Linked DNA regions of Homo sapiens. The protein of the gene in region 7 purifies or fractionates together with the protein of the main gene of each other region. This does not show direct contact. Each region holds a gene or a part of one and is shown on either strand. Other genes may lie near its edges.

Region 1 (4,157 bases), on a different chromosome or scaffold from region 7:
ACCAACCTGCCCAACATGGTGAAACGCCACCTCTACAAAAAATACAAAAATTAGCTGGGCATGGTGGCACGCACCTGTAGTCCCAGCTATTCAGGAGGCTGAGGCAGAGAATTGCTGGAACCTGGGAGGCGAAGGTCGAAGCAAGCCAGGGTCAAAGCGAGCCAGGGTCGAAGCAAGCCGAGATAGCACCACTGCACTTCAGTCTGGGCAACATGGCAAGTCTCTGTCCCCTCACAAAAAAAGAAAAAGTAAATCAGCGTGGTTATTTCTGTTTTCCTTAATTCAGAGAAATGTCTTCAGAGTTGTACACAAGCAGAAAAGAATTCTATCGAATAGACATATTATGATTTACACATATTATAATGATTAGACATATTGTGAAAATAAAGAGGGGTAAGTTTAATTTTTGTAAAAAAGATGTTTATATAGAGGCATAGAAAACTGGGATGAATATACAAGCTGGTTATTTTTATTTTCTTCTAGTGGCTCATCAGCATTTTCTCATTTTTTCCATAAGAAATGTACGTTACTTATATAAATGATTTATCAAGATGAATGAGTGCCGGGTGCAGTGGCTCACATCTGTAATCCCAGCACATTGGGAGGCCAAAGTGGGAGGATCACCTGAGGTCAGGAGTTCAAGACCAGCCTGGCCAACATGATGAAAACCCATCTCTATTAAAAATACAAAAATTAGCCAGGTGTGGTGATGCATGCCTGCAGTCCCAGCTACTCAGGAGGCTGAGGCACAAGAATCACTTGACCCAGGAGGCAGAGGTTGCAGTGAGCCAAGATATTGTGCCACTGCACTCCAGCCTGGGCGACAAACCGAGACTCAGTCTCAAAAAAAAAAAAAAAAAAGGCAGGGGGGAGAGAAATGAGTTTAATATTGGGAGAAAAAGAATAATGGAATAATTTTTAAGAATCACAAAAGACAAACAAACTGGGGTGTTCTGGAAGACAAATTGTCTTCTCAAGCTAGAAGGATTTAATTTGGTAAATCACCAATCCAAAGCACAATATAGTAGCTTTAAAGACTAAAAGTACTTTGAGAATATTTAGCTTGGTTCCAAATTTATTGACCTACCAGAATCTTAATCAAGAGGTAAAATTTTAAAGAAACTATGTTAAAAAGGTTAGTCTAATGTACCTGCCAAAAGAAATAGTGAGACCAAGGAACATGTCAAACTTTTTCTTAGAATGAGAAAAGTACTATTATTCTTTTATTTTTATTTCAAGACATTATTACTTAGAAAGCAAGATTCTTTTTTTTTTTTTTTGGAATTTGAGACAGAGTCTTACTCTGTCACCCAGACTCCCAGACTGGAGTGTGGTGGCGCGATCTTGGCTTACGGCAATCTCTGCCTCCCAGGTTCAAACAATTCTCCTGCCTCAGCCTCTCAAGTAGCTGGGATTATAGGCACCTGCCACCACTCCCGGATAATTTTGTATTTTTAGTAGAGATGGGGTTTCACCTTGTTAGCCAGGCTAATCACGAACTCCTGAGCTCAAGTGGTCCGCCTGCCTCAGCCTCCCAAAGTGCCGGGATTACAGGCGTGAGCCACCGTGCCCAGTGAAAGCAAGACTCTTAAAAATAAGCTATTACGGGCCAGGTGTGGTGGCTCATGCCTGTAATCTCAGCACTTTGCAAAGCTGAGGCAGCAGGATCCCTTGAGCCCAGGAGTTCGAGACCAGCCTGGGCAACAAAGTGAGGCCTCCTCTCTACAAAAAATAAAGAAATTAGCTGGGCATGGTAGCATGTGCCTGTGGTCCCAGCTACATGGGAAGCTGAGGCAAGAGGATCACTTGAGCCCAGGAGGTCGAGGCTACAGTGAACTGTAATCACATCACCACACTCTAGCCTGTGTGACAAAGCGAGACCCTGTCTCAAAAAATAAATAAACAAAAAATCTGCTGGGCACAGTGGCTCACGCCTGTAATCCCAGCACTTTGGGAGGCCAAGGTGGGCAGATCACTTGAGGCCAGGAGTTTGAGGCCAGCCTGGCCAACATGGTGAAATCCCGTCTCTACTGAAATTACAAAAATTAGCCAGGCATGGTGGCACATGCCTGTAATCCCAGCTACTCAGGGGGCTGAGGCAGGAGAATCGCTTGAGCCTGGGACGCAGAGGTTGCAGTGAGCCAAGATTGCACCGTTGTACTCCAGCCTGGGCAACAGAGAGAGACTGTCTCAAAAACAAACAAACAAACAATTATGCTAACATATAGGTCAGCACAGTCGTTTAACAAATGCTTTTAATCTAAATATTTATGGAATGTTTAATTAGAAAGGTTTTTAATCAATAATTTTAGAAATTTTTAAAAATAATTTCTAACAACTGAGGATCAATTCTCCTATAAAAGCATATTAATTTAAGGTTATCAGTGAAAACCAATACTGAAAAGCTACAATGAATCATAACTTAGAAGGAAAATGGAAACACTATATCCAGATTAATTTAACAAATTAGACTTTTAGCTATGGTATACCTAAAAATGCTATACTTCTTACCTTTTAAACTGACAAGGGCTTTTGCTGAAGAGCCTGCAATTAAAAATAAAACAAATCAATAATTATTTCATAACCAAAGTGAGAGAAAAAGACCTTGGTTTGGGGGTAAAAGTGATCCATTTAGTTTTAGTAATGTTGAGTTTGAAGAGATGGTGGAATGTGCAATTCGAAATATCTGGCAGACAATTCAAACTATAAACCAGAACTCAGATAAAGAAAGAACTGGAGAGAGACATATGAGAGTCTTGCTGAAGTTGTGAGAACTGGAGACCATTCCAGGAGAAGAAAGTGAAGAAACAGAAGAAAGAGGAAGAGTGGGGACAGAGGTAATTTTGGATCCTCATCCAGGCGTGCTGTGGTGCTGGAAGAAAAGAGAAAGGGAACCGACATCCATTGAGGCAAAGACTGATGTAGTAATGGAGTGGAAAAAAACAGGCAATGGAAATGATTCAGGGACTGTCAGAGCAAGCAATAAGTCCCTTGAAAGTCTAGAATGCAGGTATATGTGATACTTCAAGATCTAAGCTGGAAAAGGGAATACAGAATGGCCAAGAGGGGCTAGAATAAAGTTGGAGGGGTCCACTGGATAAAACAAACTCCAGTGTACATTAGAGGCCAGGTATGATGGCTGACACCTGTAATCCCAGTGCTTTGGAAGGCCAAGGTGGGAAGGCTAGCTTGAGGCCAGGAGTCTGAGACCAGCCTGGGCAACATAAGGAGATCCTGTCTCTAAAAAAATGTTTTTAATTCACTGGGTATGGGGGCACGTGCCTAAAGTGTCAGCTACTCAGGGGGCTGATGTGAGAGGCCTGCTGGAGCCTGGGAGGTTGAGGCGGCAGTGAGCTGTGACCGTGCCACTGCACTTCAGCCTGACAGACAGAGTACGACTCTGCCTCAAAAAAATAAAAAAGACATTAGAATAACAAGGAAGCTCCTCATACATGCAAAATCTAGACTGAATCTATATTATTAATAAACAACAGGGGATTCTGTTGCAGGTAACCCACTTTGAGAAACATCAGGCTACAGGTTCTGGTGTGAATGAATTATAGGATCTATGGGTAGGGAAAGTAGAAAAATCAATAGAGAGGCCGGGTGCGGTGGCTCACGCCTGTAATCCCAGCACTTTGGGAGGCCGAGGTGGGCGGATCACAAGGTCAGGAGATCAAGACCATCTTGGCTAACACGGTGAAAACCCGTCTCTACTAAAAACACAAAAAATTAACTGGGTGTGGTGGCGAGCACCTGTAGTCCCAGCTACTCGGGAGGCTGAGGTGGGAGAATGGCGTGAGCCCACAAGGCAGAGCTTGCAGTGAGCAAAGATTGCGCCACTGCACTCCATCCAGCCTGGGTGACAGAGTGAGACTCCATGTCCAAAAAAAAAAAAAAAACAAACCAATAGAGAAAGAAGCTTTTTGAGAGTGAGAAAGCACTAAATTTAAAAATCTCAGAATTGGATGTATACATTGCAAAGTCCAAGTCATCTGAAAAATAATAATTAAGGATGATCTCAGGGGATTAAATAAAAAAGAACATGAACTAGGAACAAAAATCAGAGAGGACGGATTAATCCTCCTTGCTATTTAACAAAAGCAGCTATGATTTACATCTCATATAAATGGATAACAGACTTAAAATGAGAAGCA
Region 2 (3,674 bases), on a different chromosome or scaffold from region 7:
ACGCAGCCCTTTCCTAACATTCCCAGGATTCTGCACCCCAAGGCACCTTCCCTGGGAAGGTCCCAGTACAAGACTCAGAAACGCCTTCCAGGTCGACCTGGGGCCAGGAGAAGGATCACACACAAACAGGCCTAGGGAGGGCCTGACCTGCTCCCCATCTCCGTCCCCAACTTGGAGGGGCAGGGTCCGGGGGAGTGGGTGGGATTCCAACAACCCACATGTGGGAAGATGGTTTTGGGATGTCAGGGCGCTCCTGGCAGGAAACAAGGCAGCAAGCCCTTGGTGCTGCGGCTGGGAGGGGTCTGCAGAGGGCACTGGGTCCAGTCCCCCTCCAGGCAGAACTCTCCCCACGCCTTCCAAGAGTGCAGCCTCAGGCAAAAAGCCCCCGGGAAGGCCTTTCCAGGGACAGGGGAATGGGACAAGTCCAGGCCCCCAGGGGCAGCCCGGTTCCACCTCCGGAGGTGGGCAGGGTAGGCATCCCAGGGCACAGGGCAGGGCCAGGGTCTCCTGGGCCAGCTCAGGGCCCATGACCCTCCTTGCTGGGGCGCAGCTATCACTGCCCTTAACCACACCTCTGGCAGAAGGCAAACCCAACGCAGCAGTGGCTCCGAGGCAAGTGCTGCCCCCCCCCCAGCCCACCCTCCCTGGGATCATACGCTTCTGCCTGCTGTGAAGAGCCGGGGCCACAGGCCCCCCACTGGTAACAGAGTCCAGGGCCTTCAAGATGCGCTGGGCCGGGGACAGACACCTGCTGGCAGAGGATCCACCTCCCCACAAGGAGAGAGCAAACACCTGGCGGCCTCCAGCCTTGGCAGGAAGGAGGGGAAATGTCAGCCAGGGTCTCACCATAGGGCTGGACAGCGGCTCCCCAAACCTGCCCTGTCTGGTGCTGGGAGGCTCCAAGCGGGCAGGGGGCCAAATCAGAAGGGGCTGTCACACAGGTGCAGACAGGTCAGGTAGGGGACACTGAGGGCTCCTAGGGCACCGGGCGCCATGTCCTCCCCAGCTGGGCTGAGTCCACAGGGCAGTGCCAGGACTACCTTGGGTCTGGAACCCATCGGTAAAGAGACATCAGTGCTGCAGGTTCGAATCTTCCATACGTCATCCAACTTTTATCAAGACAAACGTGTTCAAGTCTTCAATAGGAAAGTGCAAAAGATGTACAAATAAATGAAATCTCTTCTAAGAAGTCGTCTGGAAAAGGTGGCGAGGGGGCACGTCCGGCGTGGTTGTGGGGGCAACGCTGTGTGGAAGAACACTTGAATTATGATGAGGTGGCACTTCTGGGCTCTGGCCCAGCTGAGCTGGGCCTCGTCCTCCATGTGATGGCATTACTAGGTTTCCCTTTTTGTCCCAAGGTGGCGCTGGCTCCTAAAAAGGTGGCAGCTTTTCTCTCCCATGTGGGTCGGGCAGGTGGCCCGGCAGGCGTGGCTGCAAAACGCAAATCAGTGGGTTAAGCAGGTGGGCAGTTATAGGGGGCATCAGGGTGGCACCCAACAGCCTGTAGCTGCTTCTCCACCTATCACAACCAACTATGATCGGGGTGCCCCCCAGCCATGACCTCCCAGCCACAGGCTGCCGGGCCAGGCCATGAGCTACACCCAGAGTGCCGAGAGCACCCAGGAAGCAGCAGTGGGCAGGGGCAGCCAGCCAGGAAGCCCCTCTGGAGCCTCCTCCAGCAAGACACGGTTCCCACAGGGACAGACACAGCGTAGTGGAGGCTGGTGGCCCCAGAGAAGACCAGAATGAACTGGCAGTTTCTCTGAAATAAGCCCCCTCTCCTGGCCAATAGCCCCCACAAAACCCTCAGCCACCCTCCTGGTCCTGGGCAGGAAGTGAGGGTGTAAGACAAGATGTGATGTCTGCCACCAGCAGGACAGCAGGGGCAGGACAGGGCTCCAGGCGGGGGCAGCAGTCTCTGACTTCCGCTGGGAACATGTGTGCAAATGAGAACACATGTGCACACACAGGAGCTCACCCAAGTCCACCGACCCCTTCATGTCCTGCCACCCCAGCCTCCCAGTGGACAGACACGCTGGCCACAAGGTGGTCCCAGGGCCAAGGGGGCAAGGTAGAGGGGCTCCAGGCAGGTGGGTGGCTCTCAAAGCCGCCGGAGGCAGTAAAAGCTCCAGGACTTAGGGACGGGAGTCAAGTGCAGGGGCAGGGCTGACTGTGGCCAGGCCTGGTTTGCCAGCAATGGGGTGGCGGGGAGGAACACAGCACCCAGCAGCCCTCACCTCAGCTGGAAATGAGCGCTGCAACACAGGGAAGTCTCGAGGACGGCTAGATATCTGTCAAAAAAAGAGGAGAGCCGGGCTTGCCTGACGTTGGCAGCAGCAGGCAGGCCGGGCCCGGCGGGCACCCGTGTGCATGCTGCCCGGAGCGGACGGGCACCTACCGGTCACATAGGGCCCCAGGGGCATCTGGTTGTAGTTGACAATCCCTCCCGGTCCAGGGCCCCGGAAGTTGGGCCCAAAGTTGTTGCTGTACATCTGGGAGGAGCCGAAAGCGCCCTGGAGGCAAGGACTCAGCTTCACAGGTGGTCTCAGGCCCCCCACCCAGCCTCCACCCAGGGGCACGCCAGGGGGCTCGGGCCGGGGCACACAGGCCGAGCCTGACCTGCTGGATGGTGGGGTCCCCGGCGCGGTTGGTCAGGCGGCTCAGGATGCTGCGCTCCGACATCTGCAGCCGGGCGGCCACCGGGGGGATGCGGGACAGCATGGATGGCAGCCGGGTCACGTCGGCCTTCATGTCGCTCAGCAGCTCCTCCAGCTGGTTCAGGACTGTGGTGGGAGGCGGAGGGATGGTAGGATGCAGGGATGGAGGGGTGGAGGGATGGAGGAGTGGAAGGATGGAGGGATGGAGGGGTGGAGGGGTGGAGGGGTGGAGCAGTGGAAGGATGGAGGGATGGAAGGATGGAGGGATGGAGGGGTGGAGGGGTGGAGGGATGGAGGAGAGGAGGGGTGGAGGGGTGGAAGGATGGAGGGGTGGAAGGATGGAGGGATGATGGAGGGATGATGGAGGGATAATGGAGGGAAGATGGAGGGATGGAGGAATGATGGAGCGATGGAAGGATGATGGAGGGGTGGAAGGACGGACGAATGGAGGGGTGGAAGGACGGAGGGATGGAGGGATAATGTAGGGATAATGGAGCGAAGATGGAGGGATGGAGGGAAGGTGGAGGGATGGGGGAAGATGGAGGGATGGAGGGATGATGGAGGGATGGAGGGATGATGGAGGGATGGAGGGATAATGAAGGGATGATGGAGAGATGGAGGGATGATGGTGGGATGGCGGAGTGGAGAGATGGAGGGATGATGAAAGGATGATGGTTGGATGTTGGAGGGATGGAGGGATAATGAAGGAATGATGGAGAGATGGAGGGATGATGGAGGAATGGAGGGGTGGAGAAATGGAGGGATGGAGGGATGATGGAGGAATGAAGGGATGAGGGAGGGATAATGGAGGGATGGAGGGATGATGAAGGGATGATGGATAGATGGAGGGACGATGGAGGGATGGAGCGGTGGAGAGATGGAGGGATGGAGGGATAATGAAGGGATGATGGAGAGATAAAGGGATGTAGGGATGATGAAGGGATGATGGATAGATAAAGGGATATAGGGATGAAGCGATGATGGAGGGATGAAGGGATGATGGAAAAATGAAGGGAT
Region 3 (4,157 bases), on a different chromosome or scaffold from region 7:
TTCCTGGACTCAAGTGAACCTACCACCTCAGCCTCCCAAAGTGTTGGGTTTATAGACATGAACCGCAGCACCTGGCCTTTTTTTCTTTTTAAATAAAAGAGGTTTATTTGGTTCACGGTTCTGCAGACTGTTGTTCTGCAACTTTAACAAGCTGATTCTAGATACATTCTGTGTTACGTATTTTACCAAATGTATATCTACTACTACATTTTGAGAGTTTGAACAAAACTTGCAAGTCGTTACCTCGAGGTAAATGAGAAGCTCCAATGTGAAGAGGGGGCCCAGGAGCATTGCTGCGGATGATAGACATTTGCACATTTGTAGTCATGATGTGATGCAGGTTACTGGGATGGCCCTGAAAGAAAGAGGATAGAACGTTATTTTTACATGTTTGCTCTTAGCCATTGCCTCTAGGAAGTCACCTGCCTCCAAATGTGGGTCAGGTTGTTTTTTAGATAGTGAGTATCCCAAGAGAAAGGGCTAAGGACATTCAGCTTGAGCTACTTTTACATGCCATACCGTACAATGAACTGTGCTAACAGGCATGTGAGAAGTATGAGGACCCCACAACTGCTGCAGGCCCACATAATTACAGATAATATACTTCGATATCTACGTTTAGAAACTCTCATCTGCGATATTACCTTTCACACTTGTTTTCCCTGTTCTGGCCAAATGCTTATTTTTTTTCCCATTCTCACTATTTCCTTTACATACCACTGCATCCATCCATTCTTTAAGCTTTTTTGTTTCTAAGTAAATGTCAGTTGGTATCCAACAGGTGCTCCCTACCAGTTCTTCAGCTCAACCCTGAAATGTCCCTTACATTCTCCCAAACCACAGAGTTCAGGGCTTCTCAGCTAAGGGTTCTGGTACTTCTGAGAGTACTCAGCAGTATGACAAAAGGAAAAAACACAGTACACCTCTTTGGGATATAAATTTTTCTTGAAAATGTGAAGGGAAAGTTTTTAGATTTAGTTTTTTTCCCCAGGTAAAAAATGTAAAATATTTAATTAATCAGGTACACAGCAGAGTAGGATTGCAAAATTTCACAAAAAAACCTTAAAACAGAAGACTTCAGAATAAATGTTCGCAACTAAGGCTGGGTGCGGTGGCTCATGCCTGTAATCCCAGCACTTTGGGAGGCCGAGGCGGGCAGATCATTTGAGGTCAGGAGTTGGAGACCAGCCTGGCCAACATGGTGAAACCCCGTCTCTATTAAAATAAAAAAATTAGCTGGGGGTGGTGGTGCCCGCTTGTAATCCTAGCTACTCGGGAGGCTGAGGCAAGAGAATGGCTCGAACACGGGACGTGGACGTTGCTGTGAGCCAAGACTGCACCACTACACTCCAGCTTGGGTGACACCGTGAGATTCTGTCTCAAAAAAAAAAAAAAAAAAGTTTGGAACTAGAGAGCTGCTTGAGGTAACCTATCCCAAGAGATGCACATCTGCTCTCCTCAGAGAAACCACAGAGCAGCACTGCCTACCCCCGGAAGGCAGTTCTTGACGCTAAAACCAAACACGAACCGGACTCCGGACTCCTCAAGGACACGGACTGTTTTATCTAGATTTATATATCACACTAGGGTCGAATCGAGCATCTAGTAGCTGCTCAATAAATTCTAGCTAAATGACCACTATGGACACTGGCTTCTACTCCCTTTACAGTTATCCTTCTCTCTCAAACCTACTATCTTCACTTGCAGGTATCAGTGACTGTTTGATCTTTTTTTATTACCGTGACTAATGTACTGCTAGCATTCAATAAATCATGATCAACAGTTTGGCATTTCAGTTTGAAAATCAGCAAATTAAAAGGAAGAAAAACCTGTTGTCCACTGATTGTTGCCACAGGAATGGCTGAAGCTTGAGGGATGCTACTCTCCATGGTAACGGTAACCTGCCCTGGAACCTTGGGGGGAAGTGACAGGGTAGAAGGTGGAGCAGGAGCAATGGGACGGCTAGGCATGGTGGGCTTCGGGGGCGGCTGCAAACAGAAAACCACACAAAACATATCAATGGCCTCATACTGGTGATGCATTTCAATCCACAATTAAGAGTGCACAAATCGAACCTGGAAAGTGCCAGGAAAGATGCCGTAAGCTTTATACATTTTATCTATTATCATCACAGTGTTTCCACTGAAGTACTAGCATTTCTATTTCACAGATAAAGAAACATACAAAGCAAGGCTAACTGACTTGCTCAAAGCCACACACACAGTAAGAAGTAGAACTGGGAATAAAGCCCAGAGCTGTATGGCTCACAGCCCACACCCTTTCTTCTACATGATGCTGCCTCCCAAGTTTGGGTGGATTGAACAAAACTCCCAGTAACTGAAACACAACCCCAAGGTAATACACAGGCAATATTCTCAGAAACCCCCAAATTAACCAGTTATTAAAACAAACCTTAAAGAAGAGTGCCACTCCACTTGGTCCCATGGTACTGGGTTATCTGAACTTATAACATTACTGTCAGCTGGGCACAGTGGCTCACGCCTGTAATCCCAGCAATCTGGGAAGCTAAGGCGGGCAGACCACTTGAGGCCAGGAGTTTGAGACCAGCCTGGCCGACATGGTGAAACGCCATCTCTACTAAAAATACAAAAATTAGCCAGGCGTAGTGACGTGCGCCTGTAATACCAGCTACTTGGGAGGCTGAGGCTGCAGAACCGCTTGAACCTTGGAGGTGGAAGTTGCAGTGAGCCAAGATCGCACCACTGCACTCCAGCCTGGATGACAGAGAAAGACTCCGTCTCAAATAAAAACAGAAACAAAACATTAATGTCATTAAGCCCCCACTGCTAAATCTGACTGGCTTAAAAAAAAAAGAGGGTCCCTTCAAGATTGTATCTAACTTAACATGCCCATAAGTTGAATAATATCAGTATCAAAATGGATAACAGCAAAGATCCTATGATGCCAACTGCCCAGCAGCACAAGACAAGGCACTGCAGAAAATCAGGGCTGAGTTACAGAAAGGAGCTGAACTCATATGTCATAAAGAAAAAATGAAATGTGATCCTAAGATACAGCCTAAGATTTTATACAAATTGTTACAAACATTAGCCAGTCTCGAGCTCTGGTTCAGTGTGAAGTTTTAACCCTCTCCATTACCTTCATAAGTCCCTCCGAAAATGAAAGTGGCACTGCTGGCGTCAGGTGTGCTGGCGGGGCTGTCACTGCAACAGGTGTGGCTGATGCGACAGCATGGTGTGTCGACAACATCTGCACCTGTGGATAGGGCCTTACCACAACAGGCTCTTGCTTCTCCTCCCGGGACTGGAGGGAGCTGCTGGAACTCATGTGCTCCCTGGCACTGACTTCAGAATCTCGACCAGATTCATCATTGACTAGTAAAGACATTAAGAGTGAGACAGTATGTCACAGTCTCCCAGTGTAAGATAGCAGCACAGACAAGAGTGGTACCTGAAGTTAAATCTCAGGATTGACAAAGTGGCCATTTCCTTGTGATGTTTTCTTAACAAGGTCAATATGGGCACTGGATTCTCCTGATGGACATCAGACAAAAGAGCCACAACTGTGGAATATAGAATTTATTCTGGATATTGTAGCCTTATGAACAAACTACCTGAAAATCATCTAAAATGAGCTGAAATAGTTAAAAGTACAATACAGGATGTAAGACAATTTCATTTAAAACATCCTCTTAGAAAGTTATAAAAGCCTGACATTAAAAAGATATTTTATGCTGGCCAACATGGCAAAACCCTATCTCTACTAAAAATACAAAAAAAAAAAAAAAAAACAAACCAAAAACCAAAAACCACGTTTTTTTGTAATCCCAGCTACTTGGGAGGCTAAGGTGGGAGGATCACCTGAGCCCAAAAGGCAGAGGTTGCAGTGAGCCAAGATTCCGTCACTGCACTCTAGCCTGGGCGAGAGAGGAAGATTGTCTCCAAAAAAAAAAAAAAAAAAAAAAAGGATGGCTGGTGCAGTGGCTTGCACCTGCAATCCTAGCATTTTGAGAGGCCAAGGCAAACAGATCCCTTGAACCCAGGAGTTCAAGACCAGCCTTGGCAACACAGTAAGACTCCATCTCTGCAAAAAATTTTAAAATTAAATGGGCATGGTGGCATGCACCCGTAATCCCAGCTATATTGGAGGCAGAGGGAGGAGGATCACTTAACCCT
Region 4 (4,157 bases), on a different chromosome or scaffold from region 7:
TTATACATACACATACGAGGGTGCATATATGACAGTTTACATCTGGAGAAAAGATTTGTTCATAAAGTATTTTGATTTTATATTGCCGTAATACCATCCCCACTTTTTAAAAAATAGACTTTATTTTTTACAGAGGTTTTAGGTTTACAGCAAAATTGAGCAGAAGTAGAGAGATTTCCCATATACTTCCTGCCCCCACACATGCACATCCTCCCCTATTATCAATAACCCCTCCCACCACTAGAGTGGTACACTTGTTACACGGATGAACGTACACTGACATAGCATCATCAAAGACCAGAGTTCACATTAGGGTTCACTCTTGGTGCTGTGTATTCTGTGGGGTTGGGCAAATGTATAATGACATGTACCCACCATTATAGTATCATACAAAGAGAGTATTAATAGTTTCACCGCCCTAAAAATCCTCTGTGCTCCGTACTATCCCTACTTTGTTAGCCACAGTCATGAAGCAGTAGTAAGGTTAAACGGCTTGCTGAAAGCCATAGAGACTGCAGCCAAAGCTCCTACATCAGCTCAGCAGTCTTTTCTCTGTACTGTCTTGAAAATCATGCTGATTTGGTAAGAATGCATTCTACATGCCACCCTCCCCAACCATCCACTCAAAGAAAATAGATACCATGAATTCAAACCAAAACAAATTCAAACCAAAAATAATCTTTGGATTATAGTCTTCAGGATATGTTTACCTCAACCTACTGTACATCTCCTAGACTCACTGCTGCCTTTCTCTTCCACTCCCAGTTGAGTTTTATATCCTTCCACAACAGGACTACTAGTATTTCTGGCATTCAAGGCTTTGTGTCTCATTCATTTCTGTTCCACTTTATACCCAACTAACTAATGTGTACATGTCCTGTGTTAAATCCTCCCTATGACTCTGGTATCCATCCTATGTCCTCTTCCCTGGGTCTTGAGCTGGAAATAATCTCTCCTCTGAACACCCATAATGGTTGATCCAAATCTTTATGACATCCAGCACCTCCTTAAGTGGGTATAGTTCTTGGTAAGATATACTGTCCTTGACTACGGGAACAGTGTAATTCATTGCTGCTTCCCTTGAAACAGGGACTTGGCAGCAGGTAAAGCTGTAGGAATGTGTACCTCAACCATAAAAACACTTTTGAGGAAATACTTCCAGTAACTGAACTGTAACATAGCACCTGATAGGCCAGGAGTTTTTTCCTGGTGGACCCTTTATCCAAGTGTCTGAGGGTGGCTGTTTCATCTGGATCACTACGGATGGGTCTGGTCTATGCAGGCCACAGTCCGCTACTTGCTAGTTCCTACCCATCAATAGCTGGTCCTTCCTCCCAGCCATCAGTCCAAAGTTATTTATCATATAAATAGTTTGCATTTATGGTTTGTTTGTCCACATGTATAATCAATATTCCCAAATTCTAAATGAGAATACTTGCTTATCATAGGCTTACTATGCATAACACAGCATATTCAAATGTATGCTGAATGAATATGAATCCAAAACATCTACTTTCATAGTGTAAAGGCAGAAATGCAAAGTAAAAACAATGTCTTAGTGAAAGATTCCAGTGGTAGGCAGTGCCTGGCACATAGTAGGTATTTATTAATATGTGCTGTGTTGTGTACACATATATAACACCAAACAGGACTAAGTCACTGATCTGAGTAGTCTCCTCATTTGCTGAGAGGATTCAAGGTTTCTGGTAGAGAAAAGGGGTCCACACGAGAACAGCACTAGTTTAGGCATCACCAGATCTGAGTTCATGGAGTTGTTCTGCCACTGCCATGCTCCAGGGAGGCCACTCAGCCATTCTGGGTCTTGGGTGGTCACACTCTTGGCCGTGATCCCCAGTGGCTCCCACTCAGGCTCCTCTTGCATGCCTGATCTGGGCTCTAGCTCAGTGGCTGGCAGTGACCTCTTGAACTTGCCACCATGGTGCTGCCTGCCAGTGGCACTGCTGTGATAGCCACTACAATACTGGGCATTTGCAACATTACTTGACTACTTTGTTGCATTATTGTCCTTATCATTTAATAAACATGGGTGGCAGACAACAATACGAAAGTACAGACAGTCACAATAACAGGTCCCACACACCCTTCCATGGAGACACACATGGAAACTGTTAGTACACTAAACCCGTAGCTCAACAAGTTGCTTCTGGCCTTAATCTGTAAACTGTGAAGGTAATGCACAAATACGAAGATGTGATAACTCCTACTATTCATTGAGTGCTTACTCTGCTAAGTGCTTAACACATATGATTTCATTTGACCCACTGAGGTAGTAACTATTTACAATTCCTATTTTACAGATGAGACATTAGAGAGGTTGGTCCTCGTCACATAGCCAGTCACTTGCTAAAGCTGTAGAGCCAGGAACTATGCTCTAGGCTTAAGCTCTGGCATGAGACTGCCTCACTCCATGACTTGTTGGCTATGTGATCTTGGACAAGTTAATTAACCTCGCTGTGCCTCAATGTTCTCATCTAGAAAATGGGGATAGTAGTATCCACCTCATAGAGTGAACTGAATGAAATAAAGCATGCAAAATGCTCAGCCACTGATACACAGCAACTGTTTGCTAAACTTTAGATATTTTATTAACAATGTATTAAATGTTGGAAAAATAAGAGAGATGTTTGCCTGTGTACAGACTTTTTTTGTTGTTGGTTTTTCCCAGCCCTGCTGAGGAATGCCAGTGTACCCCTGTTGGGAGGAACAGACTTCGACTATATAGATTGTGGGCTTAAAAAAAAGTATACTTAAGGGCATCATCACTTGAGTTTCTCAGTCCACCTGGGTCAAGTATAAAGTACTAACTCACACCACTGTCCCCTAAATGACAGTTCAGATCCCGAAACACCAAATAGCCTTCAATGGTTGCTGCCTGTGCCGTGCCAGGCCTGCCGAGCCTTGGGGGTCTATGTTCTAATTCCTTTCCTAAGACTTCTGGTTTAAACACAACAATCTGTCACTTCTCTCACTGAGGTATCAGATGTTCATGGACTTTGGCCCTGGGAAACCTGACCTCCTCATTCTTTTATCAAAACATCTTGGAATTCCTCTCACTATGAATTTCTAGTAGGTGTTAATCCTCACTACTGCCCTTACTCAGCTCAACTCCACTTAAAGGCATTTTAGAATCTCTGGGCCTACTCTACCCATTTGACACCACAGTCGACAACCTCTACTAGTCCAAATCCTGTCTCTGTCCTTCTCATTCTTCAATGCCATCGCACTAACGGCTCAGTCTTCCATGGCTCCACACTATACAATCAGCATTTTAAGAATAATTCCTACAATCTACACTAAAAAAAAATACTTAAGATCCTCACATCATGTGTCAGTAGGCACTTTCTCCTCCCACTTCAGCTCTAGATGAGATGTTTTAATAACAGCCACTTATGGGGGAAAACAGCTAAGAAGGGAACAAAAAGTATAATCACACCTTATACAAATAAAGAGTAGCAGAGACCTTTAGACTAATCCAACATTTTAGTGGCACATTACCCACTAGGCCCAACTCTTCCTTCAGTAACTCTACAAAAGCTTACCTTGTAGAAGATTGATTCTGCAGTGATTATAGTGGAAACTGACTCAGGAGCTTTGATGGGCTATGAAAATACAAAAAACATTAGCACATTCATAGTATGTATGTGTCTACAGGCATTTTCCCAGCCCTATGAGAGTTCTGCAATTTGAGAAGTACTAAAATGTATTGTTTGGTGACAAGAACTGCAATAAAAAGATAAATGATTTTCTGAATGTTGTGGCAAAGCAGTCTATTTCCACTGCAATTTCTGCTACTATTAGCTTAAAAATTGCTGAGACAAAGGACAACCTTCTGATTATGCTGCTGAGATCTAATGCAAAGTCCTCTCAGAGCTTCACTACACATAAACATTCCAGTTATAAAAATGTACCTGCTCTAATAGCCTGAGCATGACAGAATGCAAGTAACAGAAAATGTACAGATGAATACAAAGTGAAAAAGTGTCTCCTCAAAGACATTTCCCAACTCAACTATGGAACTAGCCATAATACTCAACATAGGTTTTCTAGCAAGCTGAAACTAAGGCTTTAGAAACTTTGAGAGTTCTTAGTAATTTGCTACCATCCAACCATTTTTGAGATCTCTACTAAAGCTTCAA
Region 5 (4,157 bases), on a different chromosome or scaffold from region 7:
TCTGCCTCAGCCTCACGAGTAGCTGGGATTACAGGCGCCCACCACCACGTCTGGCTAATTTTTTTTTTTTAAGTAGAGACAGGGTTTCACCATGTTGGCCAGGTTGGTCTCGAACTCCTGACCTCAAGTGATCCACCCGCCTCGGCCTCCTAAAGTGCTGGGATTACAGGCGTGAGCCACCTTGCCTGGCCTCCCTTAGTATTTGATGATACAGAAAAAATTTCGGTTAAAATGGAATGCCTTGTGTAATTCAAGGGGAAATCTAAAGTGCATCAGAATTTGCCCTGAAAGAGTGAGATGTGTGTGAGTCTCAAATTCTGCCTACTCTCCTCCCCTTACAGAGGGTTGGGTTGTATTTGCAGCCCTTATTTGAGCGCTAAAAAGGTTATCACGCCCATGTGCTCACTTCAGCAGCACATATACCAAAAGGTTATTGTGCTTGTTATATGTTGGACAGTGTTCTTTCAGATCACAAATCTTGTTTTTATCACTGTTAAATTGAGGGTGTTTTTCAGGTAGAAGCAAAAATACTTGCTGAAATGTGATTTATATGTGGAACCCACCTTCAAACCAACTTGCTGAAGTTATGACTGCCTATAATCCATTAGGTGTGAGAGGAAAAAACTAACATGCCAAATGCTTTTGCTTCGTGTGTGCTGTGTATTCCCATCCAGCTGGGGCTGCCAGTAAATGCTGCCTTTTAACTTTTCTTTCTGAATTACTATTATTTCTCTGATCCTAAAAGAGTAGTGCTTTAAAAAATGACATGAAGGTTTATTGACTTAGTTCTTACACTGCTAAGCATATCTGCATAGAAAAACATGCTGAAGGCATAATCTTACTCTCCTGTAACTTACAATCTAATTGTAGAGTTGATGTAAGAGTTGTGTTTAATGCCATTTCTACATTGTGTGTGTGCTTGCCTGTTTATAATTGTCATTTATTAAAATCTGCTATCGTTGCAAGTTTTAGACGGATTCTGTAAAGATGGGATAACATGGGAGAATCTACAAAATTAGAATAAGATTGAGGAACACAGGGTTCTTTCTTGTTCCTTTCTGATCCCTGTGGCTGCTGGTGCATTTTAAGCCAGCAAGCAGACTTTACTTTCCTCTCTTCCCTGAAGGACATTAATGACCTTCCCATAACAGCCCAGCTAATTTCTGTGAGTAGGTTATTTTGGAATTGAGTATTGAATGTTTTTATCTGTTAGTGTGACTTTTTTTTTTTTATAGGATGTATCAGGACAAACTGGCTTCTCTCAAGAGGCAGTTGCAACAACTGCAAGAAGGTTGGTGTGTGATTGAATCCTGCATTTCTAAATATGCTTCTTAATATTACAAACCCTTGAAATCTGTGTATTTCACTTCTCTGTGGGAGTTATTTAAAACACGGTCTGGCTGATCTTAGCTATCCAGTACATTTTGCTATCTTTTGCTGTCAGTAAAGTGGTGATTTTCCAGCTCCTTGATTTTGAAACATTTATTTCCAGTATGTGTGAGATTCTTTCTTCAAATGAAATCTCACTTGGGACTTTCAATGGAGCACGAATTGAACGCCACTGTGCCTAAAGCTAGAGATTTTTAGGAGAGACATTGTTATCAAAGAATAAAGTTTTTACTGTTTTTTCTAAACCAAATGTTAATGACCTTGTGGATTATTCACACTGTGTTTTCTCCTTTTTGCTTGTTACATTAAAAGTAGATTGTATTTTGTCAAATGCTGCTAGCTGCTAAAGGCAGTGCAGCATCAGAGTTAAGAGTGCAGGCTGTGAGGCCAGGCGCGGTGGCTCACACCTGTAATCCCAGCACTTTGCGAGGCCGAGGCGGGTGGATCACGAGGTCAGGAGATCGAGACAATCTTGGCTAACATGGTGAAACCCCGTCTCTACTGAAAAATGCAAAAAATTAGCTGGGCGTTGTAGTGGGCACCTGTAGTCCCAGCTACTCTGGAGGCTGAGGCAGGAGAATAGCGTGAACCTGGAGGCGGAACTTGCAGTGAGCCAAGATCGTGCCACTGCACTCCAGCATGGGCGACAAAGCGAGACTCAGTCTCAAAAAAAAAAAAAAGAGTGCAGGCTCTGGAGTTTTGTGAGGGATTGGAATCCCAGTTTCCCTGCTTCTAGTAATGTGACCTTGGACATGCCAGTTTCTCTTGTTTAATCTGTTTTCTGATCTGCAAAATGAAGCAAGTAAGAGTAGATGTGATTATGCATGAGGAGCGTCTAGCACAGCAGTGTGCACACTGCAAGGTCCTGGGGACAGTTAGCTGTGGCAGTGAGCTCTTCGGTTTCATATTGTGGAGTCCCCTTGTCAGTGAAACTGTTTTTGCTTTTCTTTTTTTTTTTTTCGAGGCTGAGTTCCGCTTTTGTCACCCAGGTGGAGGGCAGTGGCGCGATCTCAGCTCACTGCAACCTTCACCTCCTGGGTTCAAGCGATTCTCCTGCGTCAGCCTCCCGAGTAGCTGGGATTACAGACGCCTGCCACCAGGCCCGGCTAATTTTTGTATTTTTAATAGAAACGGGGTTTCACCACATTGGCCAGGCTGGTCTTGAACTCCTGAACTCAGGTGATCCGCCCACCTCAGCCTCTCAAAGTGCTGGGATCACAGGCATGAGCCACCATGCCCAGCCTGATACTGCTGTTTCTACTATGTGCTTTTATTGCTGGTGAGTGATCCACGCCCTTGGACTAGCCCATGGTCAGGCATTATAATCAGGAAACACTTCCCCCCACAAGATGGGCCCCTCATAATTAACTGTTTTGTGGGAAGAGCAATGAAATGAATAGCGATTTGGTTAGAATCTATACCTGAATTGTTTAATGCTGTCACTAGCCACATGTGGCTGTTTAAATTTAATTAATAATTTAGTTCTTCGGTTCCACTAGCTACATTTCAAGTGCTAAAATAGCCACAAATGGTTAGTGCCTGCCATGTTGGACATTGCAAATATAAAACACACCATTGCAGAAGGTTCTACTGGAGAGCGTTGACCTAGACCTTACTGAAGGAGAATGAACCTTTTCCAGTAAAGGAAGGCCCGTTGATTCAGACTGTTGCAGCAACTGATCAGAATAGTGTGGAGATATTGGCAATTTTCCACTCCCCCTCACTCACTACAGACCCTTGATCCACTGGGTTGGGTAGACTTTGAATGGGCCCCTAGTGGTTTCTGCTGTGTGCCTTGGTTAAGAACCAGAGTTAACTTTGCTGAGGTGTGTCTTCCTTTGGTGTTACTGAAACAGTCAGTGTTGATGCTAGATAATAATTTTAGGAAGCAAAATGTAGAGCAGATTTATATTCACAATAATTTTATTTTTCAAATGTTCAAAATCAGGTACATTACAGGAATATCAGAAGAGAATGAAAAAACTAGATCAGCAGTACAAAGAGAGGATACGGAATGCAGGTAAGGCTCCTTTAAATGGCAATGAATCATCTTTCAATGTTTGACCATTTGCCGATCGTCGGTGTAATGCAGCCCTAAGAGCTATTCTCCAAAACATATCCCAGATACTCTGTCAGGGAGAGTTTTCAGAAAAGAGACTTCCAAGCTGCAGTTATGGAAAGTGGTTTCATCTTCTGCTTCTGTTGCTAAGGAATGGCCCAGAAGTGGAGGGTGTCTGAGGAGGCTCCTTGGAGTTAGGTTGTTCTCCCTGGTACCCCAAGAGTAGTCTTGCACCCTCTTGCTCATTTCTGCATGGCTGGCCTGATGTACAGTCAGAAGTGCGGATGAGGAAAAGGATTGTAGGTTGTTTTTGTCCCATTTTAAGTTTTTTTTTTTGGTATTTTGTGCTAGGATTGGGGAGGGTCTTCTTGTTATTTTCCCCAAGTATTGTTTTTATAAGAATTTAGAGAAAACGCACACTTGATTAGTTGTATACAGTAAATGTATTCATTCAACAAAAATGAATTGAGCACCTGCTACATCTAAGCACTGCGAGCAATATAAAGTCATGTAACACATTGCTTTGACTTTAGGACACTTGGTGTTTCATTGACAAAAGATACCACATGTATAACGTGTAAAGTTAAGGAACACCGAGTTAAAGAGCCATGCAGAAAGTAAGATGTGACAACTGTTTAAAGTGTGTAAACATGGATTCCTGAGGTTACAGGAAATCGCGTGTATGTGTTGAATTTTTAACGCTCATCAT
Region 6 (4,157 bases), on a different chromosome or scaffold from region 7:
GAGCTCTAGTACAGATGAGATAACCAAGGAAGAAGAAGATGTGAGATTCAGTTAACAGTGGACCTAGCTCAAAAGAAAGCAGTGAGGAGGATTCCCCGGATGACAGCTGTTAGAGCAGACCCAGAGAGATACCACCCAGATGCTACTGCAGAAAATAGCTCTCTAGGGTGCAGAGATAGGATGAATAAGGGGAAATTGGATACAACGCTTAATTTAATGAAATAAAATAATGTAAAAGAGATACAAAGGAAGATGTAACATGCAGAAAAGTAGTTGGAAACTCTTGGAAAAATAAAATGCTGTATAAGAAAGGAAGTTTATCAAATGTACTACTTATTTCTGCAGGGAACCACATTTACATATGTTATAAATACTATATTGTAAAAATGAAAGATAACTATATATAGAAAGGATGGTAGAGGGGAGATATGGGTGTTGATAAGTAAGAATCCCCATTGCTCATAGAGGATAAACTTTATAAATAAGTCAGCAGGCCAGGGACGTTGGCTCATGCCTATAATCCCAGTGCTTTGGGAGGCTGAGATGAGCAGATCACTTGGGGTCAAGAGTTCGAGATCAGCCTGTCTAAAATGATGAAACTTCATCTCTACTAAAAATACAAAAATTAGCTGGGCATGGTGGCATGTGCCTGTAGTCCCAGCTGCTTGGGAGGCCGAGGCAGGAGAATTGCTTGAATCCAGGAAGAGGAGGTTGCAGTGAACTGAGATCACACCACTGTACTCCAGCCTGGGTGACAGAGTGAGATTCCGTCACACACACAAAAAAATAAATAAAACAAATAGTATATTATGAATAGTAAGAGATGACTATAACTATCAGATGTTAACACTTTGGAGGTGGAAAAACAGATTTTTATCCTCTTTTTGGTTTTTCATTATGAGTCTAGATTTGTTTTTAATGATGTATATGTATTGTTTTGATAATTTAAAAAATGTGGCCATGCAGACACACATTGTAAAGGTGAAATGGTTTCACAATCTTAGTTATGTCAGTTATGTTTTACATTTAATGAATTTAGCTAAAGAACATGCATGGATTTCTCAGTAGAGAGCTATAGTTAAGGTTGTAAGTTCTGGAGTTAAATGACTTAGATTTAACTACCTTGGGGGGTAGATTAACCTCTAAACCCCAGTCCCTTTTTTTTTGCTTTGTTTTGTTGTGTTGCTTTTTGTTTGTTTGTTTTTCTTATTTATTTAAGACCCTAGTCTCTTGAACTATAAAGTGGGGCTGATAACATGTATCTCGTAGCATTGTTCTGAGGATTGAATGAGATGGTCTGTTCAAAGTGTATCAAAAGTAACCAGCATGTAGTAAGTTCTCAGGAAATGTTATCTTAAAATAACAATAAAATGATTTACCAGAATGAACACACTGAAGCAGTAAGTTCCATAATTAATTTTACATAAGTTATCAGTAACTAAAATTAATTATATCTATTCTTTAAAACATCATGGAAATCATTGATTACAAAATTATTGGATATTCATTATTACATTGAAAAATGAAGCTGGCCAGGTGTGGTGGCTCATGCCTTTAATCTCAGCACTTTGGAAGGCTGAGGTAGGCAGGTTGCTAGAGCTCAGGAGTTCAAGACCAGCCTTGGCAACATGACGAGACCCTGTCTCTACAAAAAATACAAAAATTCACTGGATGTGGCACACCTGTAGTCCCAGCTACTTGGGTGGCTGAGGTGGGAGGATCATTTGAGCCCAGGAGGTTGAGGCTGCAGTGAGCCATGATAGTGCCTGGGGAACAGAGTAAGACCCTGTCTCAGAAAAAAATAGAGAGAGAGAGAGAAATAAAGAAAGAGAAAGGAAAGAGAAAGGAAGGGAGGCAGGGAGGGAAAGAAAATAAAACAAAACAAAACAAAGGAAAGAAAAATGAGAGGCCAGGTGCAGTAGCTTGCTCCTGTGATCCCAGCTACTCAGGAATCTGAGGTGGGAGGATCTCTTGAGCCTAGGAGTTTGAGGCTGAAGTGCACTGTGATTGTGCCACTGCACTCCAGCTTGGATGAGAGAGTGAGACCGTCTCTGATGAAAAGAAAAATGAAGGCTATAGTTTCATAAGAGTATAAACTTGGGGCCAGGCGTGGTGGCTCACGCCTGTAATCCCAGCACTTTGGGAGGCCGAGGAGGGCGGGTCACGAGGTCAGGAGATCAAGACCATCCTGGCTAACACAGTGAAACCCCGTGTCTACTAAAAATACAAAAAATTAGCCGGGCGTGGTGGTGGGCGCCTGTAGTCCCAGCTGCTCAGGAGGCTGAGGCAGGAGAATGGCGTGAACCCAGGAGGCAGAGCTTGCTGTGAGCCGACATCACGCCACTTACACTTTTAGCTTGGATGACAAAGTGAGACTCAAAAAAAAAAAAAGAAGAATATTAACTTGGAGGTAGCACAATCTGGGATTATATCCTGACTCCACTATTTTCTCAGATATATTATGATAAAAATATTATACTTATATAAACTTGGAGAAGCTTTTTTCTTTTTTATTTCAGCTTTATTAAGGTACAGTTTACATAAAAGTGATGACTTTTATGTTTAAAATGTGATGGGTTTTGACAAAAGTATACAGTGTTACAACCATCACCGTGATCGTAATAGAACATTTCCATCATTGGAAGAGCCTCTTAGCCTCTTTGAAACCCAGTTTCTTTGCATGTTACATAGAGATAAAAGCCAGCAACCTCGGGTGGCTGTATACACAGGACCTAATATATACAGTCCCTGGCACATAGAAGACATTGCTAGTGTTCTTATCATACTCATCATTTTTTTTTCTGTTATTTTCTAGCTTCTGAAAGTTCTGCTGAAGACAGTGAGCAGGAAGATGAGAGAGGTGCTCAAGACATGGATAATAATGGCAAAGAGGAATCTAAGATTGATCATTTGACCAACAACAGAAATGATCTTATTTCAAAGGAGGAACAGAACAGTTCATCTTTGCTAGAAGAAAACAAAGTTCATGCAGATTTGGTAATATCCAAACCAGTGTCAAAATCTCCAGAAAGATTAAGGAAAGATATAGAAGTATTATCCGAAGATACTGATTATGAAGAAGATGAAGTCACAAAAAAGAGAAAGGATGTCAAGAAGGACACAACAGATAAATCTTCAAAACCACAAATAAAACGTGGTAAAAGAAGGTATTGCAATACAGAAGAGTGTCTAAAAACTGGATCACCTGGCAAAAAGGAAGAGAAGGCCAAGAACAAAGAATCACTTTGCATGGAAAACAGTAGCAACAGCTCTTCAGATGAAGATGAAGAAGAAACAAAAGCAAAGATGACACCAACTAAGAAATACAATGGTTTGGAGGAAAAAAGAAAATCTCTACGGACAACTGGTTTCTATTCAGGATTTTCAGAAGTGGCAGAAAAAAGGATTAAACTTTTAAATAACTCTGATGAAAGACTTCAAAACAGCAGGGCCAAAGATCGAAAAGATGTCTGGTCAAGTATTCAGGGACAGTGGCCTAAAAAAACGCTGAAAGAGCTTTTTTCAGACTCTGATACTGAGGCTGCAGCTTCCCCACCGCATCCTGCCCCAGAGGAGGGGGTGGCAGAGGAGTCACTGCAGACTGTGGCTGAAGAGGAGAGTTGTTCACCCAGTGTAGAACTAGAAAAACCACCTCCAGTCAATGTCGATAGTAAACCCATTGAAGAAAAAACAGTAGAGGTCAATGACAGAAAAGCAGAATTTCCAAGTAGTGGCAGTAATTCAGTGCTAAATACCCCTCCTACTACACCTGAATCGCCTTCATCAGTCACTGTAACAGAAGGCAGCCGGCAGCAGTCTTCTGTAACAGTATCAGAACCACTGGCTCCAAACCAAGAAGAGGTTCGAAGTATCAAGAGTGAAACTGATAGCACAATTGAGGTGGATAGTGTTGCTGGGGAGCTCCAAGACCTCCAGTCTGAAGGGAATAGCTCGCCAGCAGGTTTTGATGCCAGTGTGAGCTCAAGCAGTAGTAATCAGCCAGAACCAGAACATCCTGAAAAAGGTGAGAAGGAAAATGTGTATGTTGACTTATTTTAGGGTTTCCCCTCTTAAAGTTTCAATGATTTCACAGTATCTCTTGTTATAACCTGAGGCGATTAAGTGTCATATTTGTGTGAACATGGTAAAAATGGAAA
Region 7 (4,157 bases):
GCTGTAATGGGGTTGGTAGACAGAAAGGTGGTAAACAATAAACTAAGTACAATCTGGACTATGTTAGGAGCTGGAAAAGTAGAGCAGGGTGAGGAAGTAAAAGTGCAATGTTTGGGCAGGAAGGCATGCAAGGCCTTATTGAGAAAGTCTGAGCAAGGACTTGAAAGAAATGGGAAAATGGGAAAGTTAGTCATGCAGCTATCTTGTGAAAGAATGTTCAAGTAAACAGTGCTTTCGGTGCAAAGGCCCTAAATCAGGAGTGTGGTATGTTAGAAGAATAGCAAGGAGCTACAGTTGCTAAAAGGGAGAGAAGCAGGAGTTGAAGTGAATGGGCTCAGTGGGGAGAGGGATTACATTGGGCCCAGGAAGCCACTGTGAGGATGGTGCTTTTGCCCTGTGTGAAATCGGGAGCCATTGGAAGGCTTTGAACAGAGGCTTGGCATATCTCACTTAAGTTTTAAAAGAATCATTCTGAGTGCTGTGATAGGGTGGGAGTGAAGGGGAGCAAGGAAGAGTAGAAGCAGGGAGAGTCTTGGAGGCTATTGCAGTCATCCTGGTGAGAGCTGAAGGTGACCTGACCATGGCAGTAGCAGTGCACATGATGAGGAGTGGTCAGGTTCTGGATATATTTTGAAGATAGAACTGATAGTACTTTTGGACAGACTAGACATGGGGTATGAGAGGGTCAAGGATAACACCATGGGTTTTGGCTTGGACAACTAGAAGGATGAAGTAACCTTCAACTGAGCTGGAGAAGTCTACAGGGTAGAGCAGATTTGGTAAGGGAAGAACAGACATCCAAATGGAGATTTCTATTCTGTAACTAGATGTACAAGTCCATTAAGTCACGAGACTGAATGAGATTACCTAGGAGTGAGTTTAGATAGAGACAGAGTTTAGATAGAGGACCATGGACTGAACTCCAGGGCACCAAAGTTCAGCTGTTCTAGGAGAGGAGAAGGAAGCAGCAAAGGTAACAAATAAAGATCAAACAGTGAGTTAGGAAGAAAACCAGAAGACAGGAGTGTCCTAGGAACCAAGTGAAAAATGTACCTCAAAGAAGAGGTTATGGTCACCTGTTTCAAGTGCTATGAAAAATGTCAAGGAAGATAAGGATTGAGAATTGATCATTAGATTTAGCAACATGGAGATCAAAACCAGGTTAAGTGGTAGAGGTGACAGCCTGACTTTAGTTTTGGAGAAAATGGGATTTTGTGTATTTCTTATTTAACAAATATTTGTATAACAAAGAGAGGTTAGGTAACTTGCCCATAGTCAGGCAGCTAGTAGAAGCAGTGGCAGATTTCAGGCACAGCCATTCTGCCTTCACAGTACAAGCTTTAACCACAGTGCACTGCTGCTTCTGTGTGGCTGGTAAGGCCAGTATTTTGAGGAGTTTTGCTGCAGAGAAAAGGAAGAGAATGAGATCAAGAGAGGTTTTTGTTTTCCTTTCAAATGGGAGAATTAGTAAGAAAATGATTCATTAGAGACAACAAAAACTAGTGAAGGAGAACAGGGAGAATGCTTGACAATGTCCTTGAGTAGGCAAGAGGATATGGGATCAAACACTGAAGTGGAGGAAGGGGTTGGTAGTAGGCAGAAGCATGGATATGTCATCCAGTAATAAGCAGGAAAGTACCTCATATGCCTTCCCTTTTATTACAGCAGAAGTGTCCCTTTTCTTTCAAAAGCCATCCATTCATTTGTCCTGGACTCCATTCTTTCTCATTTTTCAAGGACAGGTGTACATTTCCCTTGTACAGGTTGAGCATCCCTTAACTGAAATGCTTCAAGTGTTTTGCCTGTAGGATTTTTTCAGATTTTAGAATATTTGCATATACATAGTGAGATATCTTAGGAATGAAACCCCAGTCTAAACATGAAATTTATTTATGTTTCATATACAAATTCTACTCATAGCCTGAAGGTGATTTTATATAATATTTTAAATAATTTTGTGCACAAAACAACGTTTTTAATGTGTTTTGACTGTGACTCATCACGTGAAGTCAGGTGTTGAATCCTCCACTTGTCACGTTGGCACTCAAAAAGTTTTGGATTTTGGGTTTTTGGTTAGGGATACTCAACCTGTCATATATTACCCCATAAATATGTCTTAATATTATCCATCTTTAGAAAGAAAAAAACACTCTGATACATCCTACCTCCATCTCTACTTTTTTATCCCCCATTCTCTGTCAACCTGTCTGGTTGATTTTCTCCCCACCATATCACTGAAGTGAGACTTATAACATTTCTAGTGACCTACTTCTTGCCAGTGGTCTGAGGGTTCTTTGTCTACACCCCTTCGATGAATTTTTCCAGTCTTAGGGCTTTAGGTAGCTTTTACAGGTTGATGACTCTCAGGTGTATATCCCCCAGCCCAGACATGCCCATATAGCTCCTGTCCCAGGTGCATATATCCAGTTCTAGCTCTGCACACATATCTCTGGACTCACCTTGGATACCTGTCTAATAGGTATCTGATAGGTTTCACATGGACAAAACAAAACTGTGTTGCTTCTGCACTCTCACTCCCACCCTGAGCTTTCCCCATCTTATAATGTGGCACTGTCATCTGTTCCTGCCCAGATCAGAAATCTCGGACTCTTCTATATTTTTCTTTTCACATCTCACATGCCAGTCATCTTTTAAGTTTTGTCAGCTCTACCTCCAAAAGATATTCCAAATCTACTTGACTGCTATCTCCACTGACACAACCATAGTGCATCCACCCTTACTTACCCAGATGACTACAGGACTTCTTAACTGGCTTCTCTGGTGCTCTTCTTGCTGAGCAAGAAGTACATCCTCCACACGGTTGCCAAAGGGATTTCTAAAGTACAGTCAGGTATACATCAAATCATGCATACAAACCCACCAAGGGCTTCCCATTATAACCACGATAAAATTCAAATGCTTGGTCACATCCTGGAAGGCCCTGTGTGACCTGGCCCCTGCACATCTCTCCACCCTTATTTTCACCTCTCTCCCTCGCTTACAGGATGCTTCTGCCATGCCAGCCTTCTTTTGGCCTCTTGAACATGTTAGGCTTGTTCCAGGCATATTCCCTTCCCGGGGACTGTGTATGTATGTGCTGTTTCTTCTGTTTGGATATTCTTCCTACTCCTCCTTTGCCTACTGGCCTCATTCCCATCACTCTTTTTTCAGTTTGCATGTCAGCCTGTTCTCCCAGCATTATATTTACCTGAAACCGTCTTACTCTTTTATGTGTTTATTGTCTGTCTCTCATTAGAATGTCAGCTCATGGAGATTAAATAGTTCATTTTATTCGCTGCTGAACCCCTCCCAGCACCTGCCACAAGTGGGCACCAACTGACTGATGAATATAGCATATAAAATGTGAAGTCGGTTTGTACTGATTTGTTTTACTATGTTTTTAAGCTTAAAATTCTTCTGTACCTTTTAGACCTACTATTGTACACAGATTCTTAATTAAAGCAACAATAGAAGAAAGAATGCAGGCAATGCTGAAAACTGCTGAGAGAAGGTAGGTAATAATTTACCACAAGTAGAAGGGGGAAGGTTTTCCTGTTAAAAGTTTGTATCTTTAGAACTTCTTCACTTAGATGACAACGAAAAATATAGCACAAATACGTTTTTAAAAGCAAAGTCTGACGTTTTGCCTTTTCACTGTTTCCCAGTCAGTGCTCCAGACTTTGTATATTTGAATTAATTTATTAATTGTAACATGTAAATATAAACTATACTACATTCCTTTGCCACATTGGATCACTTTCTGAGGCTGGGAGTTCGAAACCAGCCTGGCCAACATGGTGAAACCCCATCTCTACTAAAAACACAAAAATTAGCCAGGCATGGTGACACGCACCATAGTCTTAGCTAGTCGGGAGGCTGAAGCAGGAGAATCGCTTGAACCCCGGAGGTGGAGGTTGCAGTGAGCCAAGATCGTGCCACTGCACTCCAGCCTGGGCAACAGAACGAGTCTGTGTCTCAAAAAAAAAAAAAAAAAAAACAAACTTGTTAAGGTTAATTGTGGTGTCAATCCAAAGACAAAACAAAAGCAGAGAGACTAAACCAGTCTTAATTTTAAAAGCTTGACTCTGGAATCATAGAACTTTCTAATATTTATGGTATAATTTATTTAAATCTTTTTGAAAACATAAATCTTTCTA

What was found.
Region 1: the proteins of SHPRH (region 7) and LIN9 purify together in Homo sapiens (affinity purification with mass spectrometry, with the first as the bait; one large-scale study listed by BioGRID). This does not show direct contact.
Region 2: the proteins of SHPRH (region 7) and CHD5 purify together in Homo sapiens (affinity purification with mass spectrometry, with the first as the bait; one large-scale study listed by BioGRID). This does not show direct contact.
Region 3: the proteins of SHPRH (region 7) and SAP130 purify together in Homo sapiens (affinity purification with mass spectrometry, with the first as the bait; one large-scale study listed by BioGRID). This does not show direct contact.
Region 4: the proteins of SHPRH (region 7) and GATAD1 purify together in Homo sapiens (affinity purification with mass spectrometry, with the first as the bait; one large-scale study listed by BioGRID). This does not show direct contact.
Region 5: the proteins of SHPRH (region 7) and SUDS3 purify together in Homo sapiens (affinity purification with mass spectrometry, with the first as the bait; one large-scale study listed by BioGRID). This does not show direct contact.
Region 6: the proteins of SHPRH (region 7) and ARID4B purify together in Homo sapiens (affinity purification with mass spectrometry, with the first as the bait; one large-scale study listed by BioGRID). This does not show direct contact.

Annotation. Positions count from the first base shown.
Region 1 is NC_000001.11:226,298,662-226,302,818, forward strand, and holds part of LIN9 (protein lin-9 homolog), read right to left. Parts: intron 2,545-4,157; coding exon 2,512-2,544; intron 1-2,511. UniProt on the Homo sapiens protein: Acts as a tumor suppressor. Inhibits DNA synthesis. Its ability to inhibit oncogenic transformation is mediated through its association with RB1. Plays a role in the expression of genes required for the G1/S transition.
Region 2 is NC_000001.11:6,103,997-6,107,670, forward strand, and holds part of CHD5 (chromodomain-helicase-DNA-binding protein 5), read right to left. Parts: intron 2,784-3,674; coding exon 2,620-2,783; intron 2,514-2,619; coding exon 2,399-2,513; intron 2,292-2,398; coding exon 2,284-2,291; 3' UTR 2,238-2,283; intron 1,432-2,237; 3' UTR 1-1,431. UniProt on the Homo sapiens protein: ATP-dependent chromatin-remodeling factor that binds DNA through histones and regulates gene transcription. May specifically recognize and bind trimethylated 'Lys-27' (H3K27me3) and non-methylated 'Lys-4' of histone H3.
Region 3 is NC_000002.12:128,014,560-128,018,716, forward strand, and holds part of SAP130 (histone deacetylase complex subunit SAP130), read right to left. Parts: intron 3,357-4,157; coding exon 3,121-3,356; intron 1,989-3,120; coding exon 1,830-1,988; intron 356-1,829; coding exon 244-355; intron 1-243. UniProt on the Homo sapiens protein: Acts as a transcriptional repressor. May function in the assembly and/or enzymatic activity of the mSin3A corepressor complex or in mediating interactions between the complex and other regulatory complexes.
Region 4 is NC_000007.14:92,450,164-92,454,320, reverse strand, and holds part of GATAD1 (GATA zinc finger domain-containing protein 1), read right to left. Parts: exon of another isoform or gene 3,621-4,157; coding exon 3,561-3,620; intron 1-3,560. UniProt on the Homo sapiens protein: Component of some chromatin complex recruited to chromatin sites methylated 'Lys-4' of histone H3 (H3K4me), with a preference for trimethylated form (H3K4me3).
Region 5 is NC_000012.12:118,382,777-118,386,933, forward strand, and holds part of SUDS3 (sin3 histone deacetylase corepressor complex component SDS3), read left to right. Parts: exon of another isoform or gene 1-608; intron 609-1,235; coding exon 1,236-1,291; intron 1,292-3,337; coding exon 3,338-3,409; intron 3,410-4,157.
Region 6 is NC_000001.11:235,181,452-235,185,608, reverse strand, and holds part of ARID4B (AT-rich interactive domain-containing protein 4B), read left to right. Parts: intron 1-2,815; coding exon 2,816-4,024; intron 4,025-4,157. UniProt on the Homo sapiens protein: Acts as a transcriptional repressor. May function in the assembly and/or enzymatic activity of the Sin3A corepressor complex or in mediating interactions between the complex and other regulatory complexes.
Region 7 is NC_000006.12:145,887,374-145,891,530, reverse strand, and holds part of SHPRH (E3 ubiquitin-protein ligase SHPRH), read left to right. Parts: intron 1-3,430; coding exon 3,431-3,511; intron 3,512-4,157. UniProt on the Homo sapiens protein: E3 ubiquitin-protein ligase involved in DNA repair.